Regions from separate parts of the Homo sapiens genome. Here region 2 is linked to region 1. The links come from fine-mapping of genetic effects on gene expression. A gene starts in region 1. The other region holds a variant in brackets. All regions are shown on one strand. Distances are from middle to middle. Region 1 holds the start of FASN (fatty acid synthase). Region 2 overlaps CCDC57 (coiled-coil domain containing 57).

Region 1 (10,566 bases):
ACCAGAACAGGCCGTGATAAGGAACCGAGGAGACAAAGGCCAAGTGTCCAGGCTCGGGAAGGAGAGAGGGACACCGGTCACCCCCGGGGAGCATAACCTTAGTCTTGGGGTGGGGTCTGGCAGCAGGAAGGGCGCAGGAGAAGGGCTTCCACCTCTCGGCCAGCAGGGCCCCTCCTCGCCCCTGGTGGGCTGGCTCTGCCCTAGGGTGGGTGGGTGTGTGAACCGCTCACACCCAAGGGCAGCCCAGGGCTCAGCCTCCCCCTCAGGAGGTCCTTCTCCGCCCGGGGAGGGAGCACCTGGATCTTAAGAAATGGCATGGCTGGGCGTGGTGGCTCATGCCTGTAATCCCAGCACTTTGGGAAGCTGAGATGGATGGATCACGAGGTCAAGAGATCGAGACCATCCTGGCAAACATGGTGAAACCCCATCTCTACTAAAAATACAAAAATTAGCCGGGCGTGGTGGTGGGCGCCTGTAGTCCCGGCCACTCAGGAGACTGAGGCAGGAGAATGGTGTGAACCCAGGAGGCAGAGCTTGCAGTGAGCTGAGATCGCGCCACTGCACTCCAACCTGGTGACAGAGTGAGACTCCGTCTTAAAAATAAATAAATAAATAAAAATAAAAATAAAAAAACGGCGTGGCGCTTGTCCGAGGTCAAATGCCAGTCAGAGCGAGGGCCAGGCTGGCGGGAGAGGGTTGAAATGCCTGGGGTGGGGGGACGTGGGCAAGGGTAGTGGGGAGGGTGGGAGGGGAGAGACAGCAGGGCCGGTGCTGTCCGCTGCTTGGCTGGTGGGGGTGGGGGCCTGGAGGGCCCCTCAAGAACCTCCTGCTTTGCCTCTCGTCACTCCAGCCCCGGCCCCGGCCCCAGCACCAGCCAGACATCAGAAGCGAGGAGACTGGTACGCTCAGGTCAGGGCACACCCGCGACACCTCTGGGGTGCAGTTGGGAAACTGCGGCCTACCCCGTGGCCCACACCTCCCTGAGCCCGTTGGCCAGGCCAGGGGCACAGCCGGGGAGGGTAGGTGGTGCCAGCACCTGGTTCTACCAGAACCAAGAAGAGAAAACACTGCCTATTCCACGTGAGCAGCAGGAGCCCTCGGCGCAGCAGTCGCGAATGCCCGACCCACCTCCGTCCACGATGGCTTCATAGGTGACTTCCAGCAGCAGCCGCAGCTGAGGGTCCATCGTGTGTGCCTGCTTGGGGTGGACTCCGAAGAAGGAGGCATCAAACCTAGACAGGTCCTTCAGCTTGCCGGACCGCCGGGGCAGGCCGTAGAGCCCTGTGGGACAGGCGGGTGTTTAAATCTCTGACGGAAGCTGCCCAGAGGTGGGGGCCCTGTGGGGTGCTGCAGGCCCCTGGAGGGGCCATGGTGGAACTGAGGACTCTCTGCTATGCCTGGGAGGCCCAAACAATGGAGCAGGCTCCCCAGGAGGGGAAGACCATGGCCCCAAAGCGGGGACTGGTACGACCAGATCTGCTGCACAAGCCCCAAGCCCCAAGCCCCAATCCTGAGATGGGCCGCAGAGCAGAGAGCTCGGCGGGAGTGAGGCTGGGGGACCATCTGCCGGGCTGGTGCCTCGGCTCTACCATGCTGACTCACAGCTTGCCTGTCAGGTAGAGCTGCTCTGTGGAAGAGCCTACTGGGTGTGGGGCAGTTGCTCCAGCCTCCCGGAGCACATCTGGTATGCAACCTCCCAGCTCAGGACAGACACAGGCAGGGGCAGCCTGGCCGGAAGGGCTCTGGCCCCCCGCACCCCCTGCATGGGTGAGAGACCCCAGCCCGTCACCCATCCTCTGAGCTTGGCTCCTCCGTAACAAGCAGATGGGCCCTGCCTGGGCCAGCCCTCGGCCTTGCAGCCATTGGGGGAGCCTCCTGTTGGCCTTGCAGCCGTTGAGGGAACCTCCTGGCAGGCTGGGCGCATTTTCTAGGCCACTCTGGTGCAATGTCCAGGAAGGAGGCTGCAGCTAGGCCTCGCCCATGGGTGACCAGTGGCTCTGCAGCTGGGACCGGCCTCAGGCCAGTGCCTGGGTGGTGAGGACACAGCACAGCAGGGAGGCTGCTGTGAGGACAAAGGTGGAGATGGAGCTTCACACCCCAGGCACGGGGAGCCCCGCAGCCACATACCCGCCTTCCAGCGACGGTCATCGTCCGTGACCATGTCCACACCGCCGATGAGGTTGTCCCAGAACTCCTGCAAGTTCTCCGACTCTGGCAGCTTCCCGGACATGCCGGCAATCACCACCTCCTCCATGGCTGCTCTGCAGGGCGGGCGGTGTGAGTGCCCCACACATCCCGGCCACGACACCCCCGTCAACAGCCTCGGCACCCAGAACAGGTGGACACCCATGGGGCCAAGCACCACCCTGAGGGTCCGTGCGGGCCCTGGCTCCTGCGGCTCCCTTCCTCATGTGGCCAGTTCCTGGGCCCTGACCCCGCTCTCGCTGGGAGGGGCTGCGTGCTCTGGGAACAGGCCCGCCTCTGGGCCCTGACCCATTCAGTTCAGGGTATTGGCTGGGGTACCCCACTGGAGCCCTGCAGCCCTGGCCTCCCCAGCAGTTACTGGTTTCTGCGCCTGTGTCGGCTTCCACTCGCCTGAGTCTCAGCCTTCCAAGGCTCCTGGAGCTTGTCCCAGGCCATCCCTAGGGCACCAGGGGGCTCACAGTGAGGAGCAGGCAGGGTCACCTGAGATGGGGACAAGGCCTCAGGTGGCCAGCCTGCTAAGGGCCATCAAAGAAATGGAGAGGCAGGGTCCCAAAGCCGGGGCATGGAGGTGGCTGGGAGCCCTAGAGGGGGGTACTCAGCACCCATGCTCACCCGTGTTGGGGTGGGGGCCCGCTGTCCAGGCCAGCCCAAGAGCCACCAGGGCTGGGGAGGGACGAAATGGGGATAGCCTATGCTCTGGGGGAAAGGTGGCCCCTGCCCCACTGTGGACCGACCCAGCCAGTCCAACCCCTCCAGCAGGGTCCAACCTGGAGAACCACTCCTGGCCAGGACACGCAGGTGTTGCCTGGCACCCTTCACCTGCGCGGGTGAACCCACAGACGCTTGCCTCCCCATACCAACCCACACACCACAGGAGGCCCTCCCTGGAGCCCAGGTCCCTAAGACCCGGAACGGGTGCCCAGGCCGCCGGCTCCTCCTCCAGCATGAGGGCTGGTGCGGCCCTGGGGGGAGGGGGCGGAGGCCAGCGCTGGTCTGGCCACTTGCACGAGGCCCCAGGGCCTGATACGCGCGCCGCCCCTCGGCAGTGCGGCCTCCCTTGGGCCGTCCCGGCAGGGAGGCGGCCGCCTTCCCACCCGCTGCGATTCACAGAGGCTTGGCTGCCCCGGGCCAGCTCCAGGCCCGCACGCTGGGTCCTCGCCGCTTGCTATTCACGCGGGGTCGACGGCCAGGCAGGGGGTGGGAACACCGCGGCGCGCCCGGCCTCCCTTCGCCCCGGGCGGGGGCTGCTCGGGACCCCTGCGCTTCGGCCGGGCTGCGCCACGTGATGGGGAGGCCGGTCCCGGCGCGGCCCCTGCGCCCCCCCGTTCCTCCCTCGCGGCGTCCCCTTCGGGCTGGGCCTCGGCTCCGGGGCGGCTCCGGGAGGAGGATGCGGCGGCGCCTTTGTGGGCGCGGGGAGGCCGAGCCGGGGGCTCCTCCAGGCCCTTCAGGGTCCGCGGCCTCCCCCACGGGAAGCGAAGGCGGCTGTTGGTGGCTTTCCCCGGCGTCCTTCCCCCGCCATCCGCCCACCTACTCCGCGGGGCCCCGGGCGCCTCCGAAGGGGCACGAACACCGAGACCCGGACAGGCCGCCCAGGCGACCCCTGGATACGGGGCCGGGCCACGCGCGCCCCGAGAGCGGAGGATGAGGAGCCGGGCCACCCCGGGAACCCCGGGCCCAGCCCCGACCACGACCCGCGCCCCGGCCCCAGCGCCGGCTGCTCGTACCTGGTGAGGGCGCGGGCGGCGGTGCGGGCGGCGGAGAGCGAGGCTGGAGCGCGGCGGAGCGGGAGGCTGAAGCGCGGCGGAGAGGGAGGCCGGGGCCGCTGCCGTCTCTCTGGCTCCCTCTAGGCCGGCGCCGACGCTATTTAAACCGCGGCCATCCCCGGGCGGCCACGCCACATGGGCTGACAGCTTGGCTGCGCCGCCCAGGCCAATGAGCGTCGGGGCTGCGCCCCGGGACCCGGCGCGCCGCCGCCGGTGGGGTGATGCTCGTGCGCGCCGCCGCCCGAGCCGGGACCCTGCGCGGGAACGCGCCTGGGGGGGTGGGGCTGGGACTGAGGAGCGCCGGGGGCGGGGCGGGCGGGAAACCACCGCCCCCCGACTTCCGCCTCCCGCCCCGCGGGCCCCGACGCGCACGCGGCTGCGACCGAGCCCGCGGCGCGCCTCCCGAGCCATCCCCGACCCCCGTGTCCGCCGGGGCCACGTGTGCGGGATGGGAATGCTTGGGCCACACTGGGGACTACCCCGTGGCCACACCGGGGGTCCAGCCGGCTGCGGCGGGGCGCTCGGACCCACAGGCGCGCGGAAGGACGGACGGACCCGCGTGCCCGCACTTCGGCCGCCGACTCCACGCCGCCGTCGCTGCCCGCGCGGAGCTGGCTGAGGGCGCGGCGTTGCGCGGCGCGGCGGCAGCAGCAACCAATCGGGCGCCAGGGGTGTTCGCACCGGCCCAATGGCGGCGCGCGGGTGGGCGTTGCTAGGCGATAGGGTGATGGGCGGGCGGCGGGGCGGTCCCGGATGCCTCGCGGGCCGCGGCGCAAGTGCGGGCGTTGACCCCGGCCGCGGGCGCCCCGGCCGGGGTTACTGCCGGTCATCGCAGCGCATCCCCGGTTTTCCTCGCGGGTGCGGCGGGGAACCCAGACCCGAGACGGACGTCCACCCACCCGACGGCCCCTCCTTAGCAGCTTCCCGGGGACCCGGACGAGGCGCAGGGCCGAACGGGCGAGCGCACTCCAGGCCGCTGGAGCTCGGCGGAGGGGAGGGGCGCGGCCACGTGGCGAGCGGAGTCGGCCGGGACACCCACCTGGTGTGGTGCGGACAAAGGGAGCCGCTGCCCCACTTCCCAGGGCGGAGGCTGCGAGTTTTCCAGGCGCGCACCCACGGGCGGGGGCTCAGCCCGGCCCTCGCGCGCTCCCTCCCTCCCGAGTGATTCCTCGAATCGTGGCCCCTTGGGCGGCCTGAGCCCTGAAGCGCGGCCTCCCTTTTCTGACCGCTTCGCGCTTGCGGGGCCAGGCACCCCATGGGGGGCAAGCGGGCCTTGTGAGGCCACAGGTGTCTCTGGCTGCGTGTCCTACTTTGAGGGCTCAGCAAGCCCGGGCCGCTGAAGGGGAACCGGAGACTGGGGCCCCCGGCCCCTCTGCAGGTGTCCCGCTTCCTTCCTCTCCTGAGAGCAGGCCTGAGGGTCAGGCGGCCACTCCGCGTCTTTTCCCTTCTGGGGCTGTGGTTGACGCACGGTGGGACCGAGGGTCAAGGAAGGACAAGGGAAGACAGGGCCGGGGCTGGCCCCGCACTGCTGTCCCCACTGCGGGGGTTCTTCTGATTCAGGGTGAGGCCCTGTGTCAGCCTCAGGCGTGCGGGCACGCAGCTCCGGCTCTCCATGCTCCAAACCTCCCAGGTGGCCCTGGCTGCCAGTGCTGGTGATCAGCGGCCAGCGGGGCCCTGCTCTCTGCAGCCTGTCGAGGGCTGGGCCAGCTACAGGGGAGCCCTGGCTGGCTCCCAAGGAGGTTGGAGACTCGTCCAGCACCCTGAGGGCTTCCACAGAAAGTGAGCGGCAGCGGCCGGGCTTGGTGGCTCACGCCTGTAATCCCAGCACTTTGGGAGGCCAAGGCGGGCAAATCACGAGGTCAAGAGTTGTAGACAAGCCTGGGAAACAGGGAAACTCCGTCTCTACTAAAAATACAAACATTAGCCGGGTGTGGTGGCGCGTGCCTCTAGTCCCAGCTACTCGGGAGGCTGAGGCTGGAGAATAGCTTGAACCCAGGAGGCAGAGGTTGCAGTGAGCCGAGATTGCACCACTGCATTCCAGCCTGGGCGACAGAGCAAGACTCTGTCTCAAAAAAAGAAACAAACAAAAAAACCTCACAGGGCCGTGACTCGATTCCAGGGGACATGTGTGGGAGACCACAGAGCACTGAGAGCCTCCAGCCCATCCCCAACTCCGTCTGGATTCCCATGGAGCAAGTGACGGAGGCTAACCTCAAACGCCCCTGCCCTGGGGCCACAGCCTTTGTCTGTGTGGTGTGGTCTCTGCTTGTCACGGTTATCCGGCCCGCACACCTGTGAGCTAGGCCAGCCGATGGCACTGTCTATATTTTACACTGGGGGTGCAAACCAAAGCTGCAAAGGTCCCACGATTTGCCAAGGTGGCACGGCAGGTTAGGGCTGGGAGCAGCGTTCTCCCATCGTGTTCCCAGAGAAGCTGTCTGCCCAGTTCAGAAAGGTGGCCCGAGGGTATATGGCAAGGCCCGTCAATTCACCCAGCTGGGTACCGGCTGCCTCCACCCCTGCACTCTGCTGTGGGCAGAGTGTGACCAGGCCTGGGGGGTGCGGGGGACAGAGACTGGGCTCCTGAGGAGTGGGGGTGGGATATGAACCCCCCCCAGTCACCATCCTGCCGGTCGCAGAGCACTGCGTCCGTGTGATGAACCCCCACCCCAGTCACCGTCCTGTCGGTTGCAGAGCACTGCGTCCGTGTGATGAACCACCCCCAGTCACCCTCCTGCCGGTCGCAGAGCATTGTGTTCGTGTGGAGGACACGCGAGGACTCTTGGAAGTGCTTTTTGGCGGGGTAGTGCAGTGTGTTCCGGGCGGACGGGCGTCAGTTTACGTGTGCGTTTCTCATCCTTGCAGGTACCTGGCCCCGGGCACTCAGGTGGCAGGGACATTTTGCTGTTATCCTTCGTGGGGGTGGACGTGGAAGGCCCAGCAGTGACCGCTGTCCCCGGTTGGCCCCCACCCTGCCAGCACCTGACATGCACACCCCAACCTGCATGAGGCCCAGGTGCCCACCTGGCTTCCAGGGGTCACCTTGGCCCGGTTCACTGGGATCCAAGGCTCTCACTCCTTCTGGGAGGGCCCCTCCCATGGTACTCTCAGGAGACGCCTGCTTTGTGGGTGGGCTTTCTGATCTGCCCCCTACCTGCTACCAGGCTCTGAGGAAGGCCACACTGTCCCCAACACCACTGGTGTGCAGATGGCTGTGGGTGGTGACACGGGCAGGCCAGGCTCTGGCACAGGCACTTGATACTGCATTTCCCAAGTAGGACAGATAAACAACGCTAAGGCCAAGCAGACGCCCCAGGGAGGAACCTGGTTTTAATGGGCCCTGTGCTCAGGGAGGCCTTCAGTCAGCAGGGTCGCCTCAGCAGCATTTGGGAGCCTGCCCTGCAGCTCCCTGCCTCCACCCTGCACGCTGTGCCCACACCCCCCCACAACACGTAGGTGAAAGCACAGGCACCATGCGGAGGCCCCGAGCACCCCTTAGTGGGGCGGGGTGGGGGGAGGAAGTCAGTCCATAATGTTGTAGTTACGGATCTTGGGGGGCCTCTGGCAGCCTTTAGCTTTTGCAGGATGAGACCGGGAGGCTCCTGTGGTCTTGGCCTTTGCCTGGGCTGCTGTCTTCATCCCTGGGGTGGCAATGCCTGCCTGCATCTTGACGGGCCTCCTGTCGGCTGCTGGAGGAGCTGGGAGCTCTGTCAGGTAAAGAGGAAAAAACAGCATGCATCAGGATGGCAGGGGGAGCAGGAGGCTGTGCTCACAGGCACTGCACAGGTGCAGCACTTCCGTGTTCCCGGCCAGCGGGGGCCCTGTGACCCTTGGCCTGGCTTTCCTCCAGGAGTCCGTGAAGGCCAAAGGATCCTGGAGTGACCAGAGAGCTGTGGCCTCGCCTTGCTCAGTGGGTCCTGCTTGGCAGGGACTGGGCCTGCCCCTCCACTGGGCACCTGGACATGTGGCTCTGAAAATGGTCCTGTTGTGACCATTTCGTAATGGGTCCCAGGAGGGGGCAGGGGTGCTGTGTGGTAATGGGTCCCAGGAGGGGGCAGGGGTGCTGGGGTAAATGGTTGACTCAAAGCTCCTCCCCCCAGGCTGCCCCGGGTGTCCCTACCATCTGAGACACATTGCCTGCCCCCGCCTCCCCGATGGGCCAGCAGTGCCAGGCTTTTGAGGCCAAAGGAAAGGCCGTGCTGGTGGGCACCACGTGGCCAGGCACAGGCCAAGGGCCCAGGAGTGCGCTACACACAGAGGCTGGGGCCTAAATGCCAGATAGCCCTTCCTAAACATCGGCTAAAACCATCTTCGCAGAGGGGTGTTGTAGGTGATCTTCTTTATCTGGCCAGTTTTTCTCTATTTTTCATTTTTTCAATTAAGAATGTGGGGGTTTTTTTTGGTAAAACAACAGCAAAATGTTACTAAAAATCCATGCAAGGGCTGGGCTTGGTGGCTCACGTCTGTAATCCCAGCACTTTGGGAGGCCGAGGTGGGTGGATCACCTCATGTCAGGAGTTCAAGACTAGCCTGGCCAACAATGGTGAAACGCCGTCTCTACTAAAAATACAAAAAATTAGCCGGGCACGGTGGCGGGCACCTGTAATCCCAGCTACTTAGGAGGCTGAGGCAGCGGAGTCGCTTGAACCCGGGAGGCAGAGGTTGCAGTGAGCCGAGATTGCGCCACTGCACTCCAGCCTGGGCGGACAAGGGCAAACTCTATCTCAAAAAAAAAAAAAACAAAAAAAACCCCACAGTAAGATGTGAGCTCAGCGTCCACTGCGTGGCCACACTGTGGCTGGGGTGAGGTCTAGAGGACTCCAGCACGTGGCTGAATGTGGCCCAGTGGGCAGTCTGGACAGGCTGACCCAGGCAGGTCAGCGGGCGGCCAACGCCTCCTGCTGGAGCCCAGCCTGTGTGGTCTGCGTGCAGCCTGGGTGACTGGGAAGCGTCTGTGCTTTGGGGACACCGGCAATGACGCACTCTCAGCTGGGCTGCGCAGTGCCCATGGGGGCAGCCACACACTCCCAGCCCTGGCCCTGGGCCCCTCTTCCCATCTCAGCTTCTTCCACTCCGATCCACTCTTGGGGTCTCAAGACACCCGGAACCAGTCTTCCTTTTCCTGCAGCCCCGTTGGGGTCACACAGTCCCTGGCCCCCTGCTGGGGTCCTGGGGGGCCCTGGACGCTGCCTGCTCCCTTTGTTTCCAACCCCCAGAGGAATTCCTCCTCTTCACACAAAGGCTACCACCCTTTATCTCTCAACAATAAGCCTGCCTGACCTCCTGGTCCCGGCCAACGCCCCCATCCCCACTCCCTCCCCCCACCCCCCACACTGGCTGGCAGAGGGTGGGGTATCCCGTGGAAAGGGCTTCCTGCGGGGAAGCTGGTCCTCTGACCAGGCCCTAGTGCTCCACTGTGACCCTGAGGCATCTCCTCAAACCCAGAGGCCTTGGTTGTCCCTCTGTAATGCTCAGGGATTCTGGGGGCTTTGCCCGGCTTGATCCTCCTCAGACAAAGCCTGTGGGGATTTTCAGAAAAAGTGAGCTGAGGGAGGGGGGTGAAGGGCCTGCCCCTTTGCCTGGGAGGCCTGAGCTGGCCCTGCTGGGAGGACCCTGGCTGTATCCCGGGGCGAAGCAGGGAGGTGTGAGTGGGTCACAGTCCCCGGGGCAGGGAGGGGCAGGGAGGGGCAGGGAGGGTGAGCTGGCCCCCTCCCCAGGGCAGGCCGGCCCCTAGCTCAGAATATCCACTTTACAGGCTCTGGTTTCTTCACTGGTCCTTTTCCTGCGGAGCCCTCCTCAGTGATGGTGGCAGGGAACTGGCCATGAGCCCAGGACCCCAGGGCAGCGGACAGCCCCAGCCCAGCCAGTCCTAGGTCAGAGGCACGGAGCTGGATGTGTCAAGGCGGCTGCCCCAGGCGTGACTCCCTGTGACCCCGGATTCTTCTACCTGATGCTAATCTGAGGTCAACCCAGTAACTGGTGTGTAAAAACGCTCTTGGCCTCCACCACTCTCTGCCCCGCCTTCTCGCCTGACCTGTTTTGCCGAGCCTGGCCGGGATTTCTCTTTCTGCGTTGGGCTGACTGGGCCGCAGGGAAACCATGTGGACACACAGTTTGCCGGGCACAGCGTGAGGAACGCGCCTCTTGGGTCCTGCACCCCTCCCCCACGGGCTGCTTGTGCTCTGGCCCCGAACTGAGCTTCTGGAAAGTTCCTGAAACATCCAAGGCCTTGCAGTGATTAACCAGGGGAGGGGGACTGGGGCCTGCTTGCCCCTCCCAGGCTTAACCCCTCCCAGGTCCTGGTGTGTGCTGAGGCAGGGCCACCCAGGCTGGGCTCCGTCCCCTCAGGCGGCTGCACCATACTTGGAGGGTTTTTTAAATTTTTATTTTTATTTTTGAGACGGAGTCTCACTCTGTCGCCCAGGCTGGAGTGCAGTGGCGTGATCTCAGCTCACTGCAAGCTCCGCCTCCCGGGTTCACGCCATTCTCCTGCCTCAGCCTCCCGAGTAGATGGGACTACAGGCGCCCGCCACCACGCCCCGCTAAGTTTTTTGTATTTTTAATAGAGACGGGGTTTCACCATGTTAACCAGGATGGT
Region 2 (10,566 bases), 50 kb after region 1:
TATAGTGAGCTACGATGGCACCACCATGCCAGCCTGGGTGTCAGAGCGAGACCCCATCTCTTTTAAAAAAAAAAGTAGTAGAAAAATGTCAACATACAGAAAATTCTATTTCCAGCTAAACCATCATTCTAGAAAGTCATCTACAGATACATAGCATGTACTCCCCACAGACTCTTGCTGAAGGAACTGACAAAGCAAAGGGCAGAGATCCCTGAATAAAAGTCCATTTCCCTTTTCTCTTTCCTAGAAAAGATGGGGCTGCCTTGTACCTGAGTCTGAGTATAAAGCCTTGTGTCCGATCAACTGCTCTCCAGGCTCCTGGAAGACCCCACTGTGGTAAACAGGGAACCGAGGTCAAGGAGCAGGCCTGGGAAGAGCTTCAATCAACTGTTTCATAAAATGTGAGCAAAAGTTATTACTTCCAACTCAATATATTGTTATAAGATTTTAAATACGTACGTGTCATTTAACTAATAAATTAAATGTAAATAGATACTTTACTATTTATGCACATATGCCTAATAAAGAGTATTGAGTCAGCTGCCAACTATTGGGAAACAACAAAGCGAGATCCCTAATTTGTTCTTTTTCACTAGATCATTTCCCGATGCATTAAAGACTCAGCAGGAAAATGACATGACGATAAAATACAAGTGGCCCCACAGTAAGCCCCCTACATACACACAAAATTAAAGAAGCACAAATTTAAAACAGGAAATCCTTTTACCTATTTAGATTGGCCCTCCAAATCAATTTTATTTCTTTTCTTTTTTTTTTTCTTTTTTTTTTTTTTGAGACAGAGTCTCGCTCTGTCACCCAGGCTGGAGTGCAGTGGCTTGATCTTGGCTCACAGCAAACTCCACCTCTCGGGTTCGAGATTCTCCTGCCTCAGCCGCCCGAGTAGCTGGGATTACAGGCACGTGCCCCAACACTTGGCTAATTTTTTTTTTTTTGTATTTTTAGTAGAGACGGGGTTTCATCATGTTGGCCAGGCTGGTCTCAAACTCTTGACCTCAGGTGATCAGGCGGTGGCTCACACCTGTAATCCCAGCACTTTGGGAGGCTGAGGTGGGCAGATCACTTGAGGTCATGAGTATGAGACCAGCCTGGCCAACATGGTGAAACCCCGTTTCTACTAAAAATACAAAAATTAGCTGGGCATGGTGGCGGGCGCCTGTAATACCAGCTACTTGGGAGGCTGAGGCAATAGAATCGCTGGAACCCGGGAGGCGGAGGCTGCAGTGAGCCGAGATCGCACCACTGCACTCCAGCCTTGGCAACAGAGATTCTGTCTCAAAAAAAAAAAGTTAGCTATCATAAAGAAGTTTACTAGAAACAACATTTTAAGGAATCCCAGCTTTCTACAGGATCAAGGAAATGCCATGTGCAGCTGATTTCTGGAAGGCGCAGAGGGAGGGTGAGCTCCAGGCACTGCCCACTCTGTGGGCAGAGGGGCCTGCAGGCAGGGTCCCACAGCACCTGCCTCCTGCTTCCCCCTGCAGGCCCCTGAGTGGGGCTGTTCTCACTCCCCGCCCTGGTCTCGGCCGGAACCCTGTAGCAGGCAGGTGAAGCTCCTTATCTCAGAGGGGGCCCACCATGTCACCTGCTGGAGTTGGCTCCACAGTCTGAATGGGGTGTTGGCAGGAACCAGTGTCACCAGAGCACAGGGGACGCCCCGGCACCTCCCCCCACAGCCATCTATATGGGCACCGGCAGCATGAGACAGGCTCTATGCCTGAAAGCAGCCGAGAGCCAGTGAAGTGGCGGTCAGCTTGCTCCCTGCGGGATGCGGCCCCTTCCCAGAGGCGGACAGGTGAGGACATGCACTGAGGCAGCTGCAGGTGACCCCTGGGCCACCGGTGCTGGGGCAGAGTAGCTGTTGTGAAGTGGACTAGAGAAGCATCTAGAAACAGCCACAGGCAGAGCAGGTCCTGCTCAGCCCCCTGGCTGGACGGCTGTCCCACGTTGAATAATGATGATATGTTTGTCACAGCTGGCCATTCTGTACTACTTAATGATTGCAGCCACATCATTTATGAACCGGATAAGTGATCTTAGGAAAAAAATGCAGATAGACCAGTCAGTCTTGCCTAAACCTTTGCAATCAGGACTCATCTTTTTTATTTTTTTAAATGTTTTTAGAGACTGGATCTCCTGTGCTGCCCAGGCTGGAGTGCAGTGATTATTCACAGGCAGGATCATACCCACTGCAGCCCCGACCTCCTGCGCTCAAGCAATCCTCCCACCTCAGTCTCCCAAGTAGCTGGAACTTCAGACACACAACACCATGCCCAGCTAAGAACTCAATGTTTAGGTGGGGAGGACGGCCTTCCCAAAAAGAAACAAATGGGGTATGTTTGGTATAATCAAAGCCAAACCAAAAGTCCCCATTCTTCTCTTCTCACTCTACTTTCTTCTCTAAATTGCCAATAAATCGACAAACTTCCATTGAGTCCTCCCTATGGATGTGTGCATGCATGCACACACACGGTCTAACATACAAATGCATGTGTGCACACAGTCTCACATACAAATGTATGTGCACAGTCTCACACACAAACGTGTGTGCACACAGTCTCACATACAAACGCACATGCACAGTCTTGCACACAAACGCTTGTGCAGTCTCGCAAACAAACGTGTGTGCACACACACAGTCTCACATACAAATGCACGTGCACACACACAGTCTCGTCTCGGGAAGTGCTAGGATTACAGGCGTGAGCCACCACACACAGCCGAGGAAACATCTCTTTAGCCAGATTTGGGCCTGGCGACATAGGAACTGAAGAAGGCAGAAAGTATCTGGCACTCAGCAGGGGCTCCTCTACTGGATGGGTGGATGGATATATGGATGGTAGGTGGATGAGTGACTGGATGATTGGATGGATGGGTGGATGGGTGAGTGAAAGGATGGATAGGTGGGTGGGATAAGTGGTTGGATAAATGGATGGATAGGTGGGTGCATGGGTAGGTGGATGGATGGATGGATGAATGGATAGATGGATGAATGGATGGGTGGATGCAAAGATAGATGAATGGATGGATGAATGGGTGGGTGGGTGGGTGGATGGATGGGCGGATGGATAGATGGATGGGTGGGTTGGTGGATGAGTGAGAGTGGCTAATTGGATACATGGGTGGATAGATGAACAGATGGATGGGTGGGTGAATGGATGGATAGATAAGTGGGATAAGTGGTTGGATGGATAGATGGATAGGTGTATGGACGGATGGACAGGTGAGTGTGTGGGTAGGTGGATGGATAGATGGGTGGGTGGACGGATGGATGGATACATTAATAGATGGATGGGTGGGTGGGTGTACGAATGGATGGATGGATGGGTGGGTGGATGGATAGATGGATGGATGATTGGGCGGGTGGGTGGATGGATGGGTGGATGGATACATGGAAGGGTGGGTGGGTGAATGGATGAATGGGTGGGTGGATGGATGGATGGATAGATAGGTGGGTGGATGGATGGGTGGGTGGATGGTAGATGGATGGATGGATGGGTTGGTGCGTAGATGGATAGATGGATGGGTGGGTGGGTGGGTGAATAGATGAATGGGTGGGTGGATGGGTAGATGGATGGATGGTTGGATGGGTGGGTGAATGGATGAATGGGTGGGTGGATGGATGGATGGATAGATAGGTGGGTGGATGGATGGTAGATGGATGGGTGGGTGGGTGGATGGGTAGATGGATGGATGGTTGGATGGGTGGGTGAATGGATGAATGGGTGGGTGGATGGATGGATGGATAGATAGGTGGGTGGATGGATGGTAGATGGATGGGTGGGTGGGTGGATGGATGGATGGGTGGGTAGATGGGTGGATGGATGGATGGGTGGGTGGGATAAGTGGTTGGATGGTTAGATGGATGGATGGATGGATGGATGGATGGATGGATGGATGGATGAATAGATAGGTGGGTGGATAGATGGGTGCGTGGATGGTAGATGGATGGATGGATGGGTGGGTGGGTAGATGGGTAGATGGATGGATGGATGGATGGTAGATGGATGGATGGGTGGATGGATACATGGATGGGTGGGTGAATGGATAAATGGGTGGGTGGATGGATGGATGGATGGATAGGTGGGTGGATGGATGGGTGGATGGGTGGGTGGGTGAATGGATGAATGGGTGGGTGGATGGATGGATGGATAGGTGGGTGGATGGATGGGTGAGTGGATGGGTAGATGGATGGATGGTTGGGTGGGTGGGTGGGTGGATGGATGGGTGGGTGGATACATGGATGGGTGGGTGGGTGAATGGATGAATGGGTGGGTGGATGGATGGATGGATAGATAGGTGGGTGGATGGATGGGTGGGTGGATGGTAGATGGATAGATGGATGGGTGGGTGAGTAGATGGATAGATGGATGGGTGGGTGGGTGAATAGATGAATGAGTGGGTGGATGGGTAGATGGATGGATGGTTGGGTGGGTGGGCAGACGGATGGGTGGATGGATACATGGATGGGTGGGTGGGTGAATGGGTGGGTGGATGGATGGATGGAAAGATAGGTGGGTGGATAGATGGTAGATGGATGGATGGGTGGGTGGGTGGATGGATGGGTGGGTGGGTAGATGGGTGGATGGACAGATGGATGGGTGGGTGGGATAAGTGGTTGGATGGTTGGATGGATGGATGGATGAACAGATAGGTGGGTGGATGGATGGGTGGGTGGGTGGATGGTAGATGGATGGATGTATGGGTGGGTGGGTAGATGGGTAGATGGATGAATGGATGGGTGGTGGATGGATGGTAGATGGATGGATGGGTGGGTGGACGGATGGTTGGGTGGGTGGATGGATGGATGGGTGGGTGGGTAGATGGATGGATGGGTAGATGGGATAAGTGGTTGCATGGATGGATGGATGGATGGATGGGTGGATGAATAAATAGGTGGGTGGATGGATGGGTGGGTGGATGGCGGATGGATGAGTGGGTGGATGAATGGATGGGTGGGTGGGTAGATGGGTAGATGGATGGATGGATGGA[TG/T]GGGGGGGTGGGTGAATGGATGGATAGATGGATGGGTGGTTGGATAGATGGATGGATAGGTAGGTGGGTGGATGCATGGAGGAACAGATGGATGACTCACTGAAACACTCAGTCATAAAGCCAGTGCCCCTTGCCTTTCTTAGGAAGTCAGCTCCGGTGTCTGTGTCCAAGATGCCCAGCCTCCACCTCAGTCAGGAGACACTGCTGCCTTTACCTGGAGAAGTCTGCGGCCATCTTCGCTGCTCACCACAGAGCCGCACAGAAATGCCGGCTGCTTTGCTAACCTGCGGTGTTGTTCTCACAAATGCTGCCAGCGAAGTGGGTCCCCAGAGCGCCCGCAGCTAAGATGAGGTCCTGCTCTGTGCAGTGGCCTCCGACCAGGCCCCGCTCACAAGAGGGGCTTCTGTGCTCCTTCGGGCCTTCCTGAGAAGGCTGCGTCCAGAGCCCTCCCACTGACCCCAGGCGCACACCCAGAACCTGACCCGCACCCAGAACCAGGCGCACACCCAGAACCTGGCCCGCACCCAGAACCAGGCGCACACCCGGAACCTGACCCACACCCAGAACCAGGCGCACACCCAGAACCTGGCGCACACCCGGAACCAGGAGCACACCCAGAACCTGGCGCACACCCAGAACCAGGCACACACCCAGAACAAGGCCCACACCCAGAACCTGGCGCACATCCAGAACCAGGTGCACACTCAGAACCTGACCCGCACCCAGAACCAGGCGCACACCCAGAACCAGGCGCACACCCAGAACCTGGCACACACCCAGAATGTGACCCCCACCCAGAACCAGGCACACACTCAGAACCTGGTGCACACCCAGAACCTGACCCACACCCAGAACCAGGCGCACACCCAGAACCAGGCGCACACCCAGAACCTGACCCACACCCAGAACCAGGTGCACACCCAGAACCTGACCCGCACCTAGAACCAGGCGCACACCCAGAACCAGGCGCACACCCAGAACCAGGCGCACACTCAGAACCTGACCCGCACCCAGAACCAGGCGCACACCCAGAACCTGGTGCACACCCAGAACCAGGTGCACACTCAGAACCTGACCCGCACCCAGAACCAGGCGCACACCCAGAACCTGGTGCACACCCAGAACCAGGCGCACACCCAGAACCAGGCGCACACCCAGAACCTGACCCGCACCTAGAACCAGGCACACACCCAGAACCAGGCGCACACCCAGAACCTGGCACACACCCAGAACCTGACCCGCACCCAGAACCAGGCGCACACTCAGAACCTGGTGCACATCCAGAACCTGACCCACACCCAGAACCAGGCGCACACTCAGAACCTGACCCGCACCCAGAACCAAGCGCACACCCAGAACCTGGTGCACACCCAGAACCAGGAGCACACCCAGAACCAGGCGCACACCCAGAACCTGACCCGCACCTAGAACCAGGCACACACTCAGAACCAGGCGCACACCTAGAACCTGGCACACACCCAGAACCTGACCCGCACCCAGAACCAGGCGCACACTCAGAACCTGGTGCACACCCAGAACCTGACCCACACCCAGAACCAGGCGCACACTCAGAACCTGACCCGCACCCAGAACCAGGCGCACACCCAGAACCTGGTGCACACCCAGAACCTGACCCACACCCAGAACCTGACCCGCACCCAGAACCAGGCGCACACCCAGAACCAGGCGCACACCCAGAACCTGACCTGCACCTAGAACCAGGCACACACCCAGAACCAGGCACACACCCAGAACCTGGCACACACCCAGAACCTGGCGCACACCCAGAACCTGACCCGCACCCAGAACCAGGCGCACACTCAGAACCTGGTGCACACCCAGAACCTGACCCACACCCAGAACCAGGCGCACACCCAGAACCTGACCCGCACCTAGAACCAGGCGCACACCCAGAACCAGGCGCACACCCAGAACCAGGCGCACATCCAGAACCTGACCCACACCCAGAACCTGGCACACACCCAGAACCTGGCACACACCCAGAACCTGACCCGCACCCAGAACCAGGCGCATACCCAGAACCTGACCCGCACCCAGAACCAGATGCACACCCAGAACCAGGTGCACACCCAGAACCTGGCACACACCCAGAACCTGGCACACACCCAGAACCTGACCCACACCCAGAACCTGGCGCACCCCCAGAATCTGACCCACATCCAGAACCTGGTGCACCCCCAGAATCTGACCCACATCCAGAACCTGGCGCACACCCAGAACCAGGTGCACACCCAGAACCTGACCCACACTCAGGCCATGGCCTCCACTTCCCGGACTCACTTTCGGGTCGGCCCAGCTCTGCACGGAGCCTGTTCCCCATCTCGATGAGCTGCTCTTTCTCCAGGCGGAGGCTGATGATTTTTCTGGCTGCCTCCTTCAGCTTTCTCTGGAGTCGGTGCATAGATAAGGTCTGGGGGGCACGTGCCACTGACCGGAGGTGCAGGAAAAGCTCCCCCTGGTCCTCGGCCTCCATAGGCCCTCTCTTGGTGAGGCCCTGTAACAAAACTCACAGGCAGACACCCCTGTGAGGCTGCCCTCATGGGAGGACGCCAGGGGTGCCCACCCAAGGAGCCTCTTCACCTGCTCTTCCAGGGTGGGCACTGCTGGCTGTCACTGGGTGACATCCTTCCAAAAGAAAGACAAAAAGAGTCGCTGCTCCCAGTGCTTCAGTGGGTTCCTTCTCTTCCACAAATAGAATAAAGGCCCACAGATCTCCCAGGCCAGGGTGGCCCCCAGATCTCCCAGGCCCTCACAGCCCTCCGCCTCCTCCCCGCCATCCCTGCCTTCTGGTCATCTATGCCTTTGTGTCTTTCAAGTGAACACAAGGAGAATCTGAGGACACCCAACCAGCACAGCAGCTCCCCAGGGAGAGCAGAGAGAAGGCTGTGGCCTCCAGCAGTGCCCAGGACCCAGGAAGGCGGCCCAGGGAGAGCAGAGAGAAGGCTGTGGCCTCTAGCAGTGCCCAGGACCCAGGAGGACAGCTCCCGCCAGCGTGGCTTGGCCCTCCTCCACTCCTTGGGGTCCCTCCTTTCTCTACCTGCCAGCTGGACACCCCACAACCACCCTGCAGGCCGGCTGTGGCTTCCCTCCTGAAGCAGGTGCAGGGGGAGCACAAAGGCAGTGGAGAGGGAGGAGGCCGACACAGGGGCAGGAGCTGGCTGGGCTCCCCCTTAGCACCCCAAGCCTGGGTCAACCCTAGATCTGAGCCCCTGGGAAGCACTGTGTTGTCCTCACTCAGCCCAACCTGGACTTGCAGCCCACATCATTCCAGTGCTACAGAGTGCAATCCCAACACAAAGGGATGCCTGGACCAAAAATGGGGGCACAGGAAAAAGCAGTAGTGTCCAGGCCCTGGCAAGACGGGAGCCGACGACCTACTTCTCCCGTGCCACTCCTGGCCCCTGTAAGGAGCCAGGCTGCACCTGGCCCTGGCCACATGAGCTCCGAGTTCCTGGAACAGGCCAGCACACCCTGTCCCCGCCAGCTTCCTGGTGTGCCTTTCCAGGGCTGGCAGGTGCTGCTGCCTTCCAGGTGCTGCTGTTCTTTGGATGGCCTGGGGTGCAGCCACTGTATGCAGTGCCTCCGGGCATGTGCCGCAGGTTCATGTGGGACGCTCGGGGGCCGCGGGGGATGACACATCGAAGGGGAGAGATGTCTGCTTTCCTCTTGGACAGAGAAAGTTCTATGGTGCCGCAGGCCCCAGCTGAGGACGGGTGCAGGGCAGCCCCCATGAAGGCTCGCCACAGGCCTGAGCCCGAGTCCAGACTCGCTTCCTCCAGTAAGCGGGCCTCATGCCTGCTCCGTGAGCACCCTTGGCAAGTGTGGTGCAGAGGCTCACTCACCACCCTGGGAGAATAGACAGGAATGGGCTCTTGGGTGTGGGAGAGGCCAAGGCAGAGGGAGAGGAAGGGAGGCCTGTGCTGGTAAAACAGATTGCAGATGGCCTGGGGCTGGGGGAGAGGGGCCAGGCAGGTGAGACTCGCAAGTCCGGTTCTAAAACCCTGGATCCTCTACAGGAACACACTGGGTTATTTTGTTATTTTAACTGAAGAAAGAACAATCCCGAAAACAGATTTTGCAAACCTCAAAACACTTAGAGATTTAAGAGAAAATTCCGTCTTCAAAAGCAGTCCCCTCTCCCTGCAAAGTTACACCAGGCCCTGCGGCTGGTGCCAGGCTTGAGGGGCACTGAGGGGCCTTCTTGCTGTTGACCCCACAGGCAAAGGAAGGAGGGCATGGATCACAGGGCCCATGTCCTAGTCACGTGATTCTGCACACAGTGACCTGGGGGGCAGGGAGTGAACGATTCTACTTCTCTCGGATTCAGTTTCTGGTAAAATGTTATTTGGTAAAAGTTTATTTTGATGATTCTCTAAAATCTTTCCACAAAATAAGATTTCTACAGCCTGAGACATATTCAGGAATGTCTTCACCACTGTGTGCTCCAAGGGCTGCCCACCCCCAGCAGGGCAGCAGCAGCTGTCCACCCATCTGCCCCCACGCCTAGGACTGCCCCAGCACCCCACAGGTGAGGAGGAGATGTCTCCAAGTATCTGGACGATTCGAAGAAAATTCGAAGGAAACTTTGGTCTGCTGAAATGTCTTCACGTCCTGAGGACATGTATGAGTGAGTGACACAGGGAAGTCCTTCTCAGAGGCTGAGGCCTGGGCCTGGTACAGTGGGTTCCATCAGGCTGGGCCGGCGCTCACCGCCCCACACAGCCACTCCAACGCCTCTCGGCAGAGCCAGCACCAACACCATGGCCAACACTGCCCCCCAGTGGACCCAGGGATGTAACACATCCCCCAACTCAGCCCTGGCGGCCAGTGACTGGGGGAAGTTTTGTATTTTAAGGGCTAGAGGCAGCTGATGTGGGTGGTGCAGTCAGGGAAGCCCAAAGCCAGGCTGTGCGGCTCAGCCCAGTGGGACCTGCCTGGGAGCAGAGTGCCCCACTGTTGTCCACAGGCTCTCCCTCTGCCATGGGAGAAGTGGGAACACGTGCCTCCGCACACACCTGGTCCCAGCTTTGCAGACCTGGCTCCTTGGCTAGGGCCGTGGAAGGGGACCAGCTTTCGTCAGGAGTGCTGTGGGACAGTCCCTGGACCCCTGTGCACTTCCTCACCCACCCTGCACTGGCTTCCTGCACTACAGGAGGTAGGCTGGAGACGCAGTGCCGCGTCACACCTCAGTACTTGGGTGGGTGTACACAATACGTGACCTGGTCCGTGGCCCGTGTGCAAATGTCACCAACCGTCCAGATAACGCCCTGACGCCATCTCTCCTGTGCAGGGTCCAGGGTCCCACGTGGCATTTCTACACTGTCTCTCCTGTGCAGGGTCCATGGTCCCACATGGTGTTTCTACAGATGATGCCCTGACACCGTCTCTCCTGTGCAGGGTCCAGGGTCCCACGTGGTGTTTCTACGGATGATGCCCTGACGCCGTCTCTCCTGTGCAGGGTCCAGGGTCCCACGTGGCGTTTCTACGGATGATGACTTGATGCCCGTCTCTCCTGTACAGAGCCCAGGGTCCCA

The links. PIP is the estimated chance that this variant, and not a neighbour inherited with it, causes the effect.
Region 2: its variant is the best candidate, but not a certain one, in a credible set for the expression of FASN in whole blood (INTERVAL, PIP 0.73).

The regions. Positions count from the first base shown.
Region 1 is chr17:82,094,192-82,104,757 of GRCh38, forward strand. It overlaps FASN (fatty acid synthase), which reads right to left and starts at 4,045. Exons shown (of 43, transcript NM_004104.5): 1 at 3,930-4,045; 2 at 2,128-2,261; 3 at 1,129-1,281. The coding sequence starts at 2,254. It overlaps CCDC57 (coiled-coil domain containing 57), which reads right to left. Exons shown (of 19, transcript NM_001394669.1): 19 at 7,279-7,675. The coding sequence ends at 7,491. RefSeq lists enhancers at 2,354-3,269, 9,672-10,566 and silencers at 3,138-3,187, 3,248-3,457, 3,478-3,667, 3,738-5,217.
Region 2 is chr17:82,144,248-82,154,813 of GRCh38, forward strand. It overlaps CCDC57 (coiled-coil domain containing 57), which reads right to left. Exons shown (of 19, transcript NM_001394669.1): 15 at 7,313-7,526. Among named protein-coding and RNA genes, the nearest start is that of FASN, 51 kb to the left of the region's middle. RefSeq lists an enhancer at 5,562-5,621. The variant TG/T (reference allele first, on the strand shown) is at 5,011.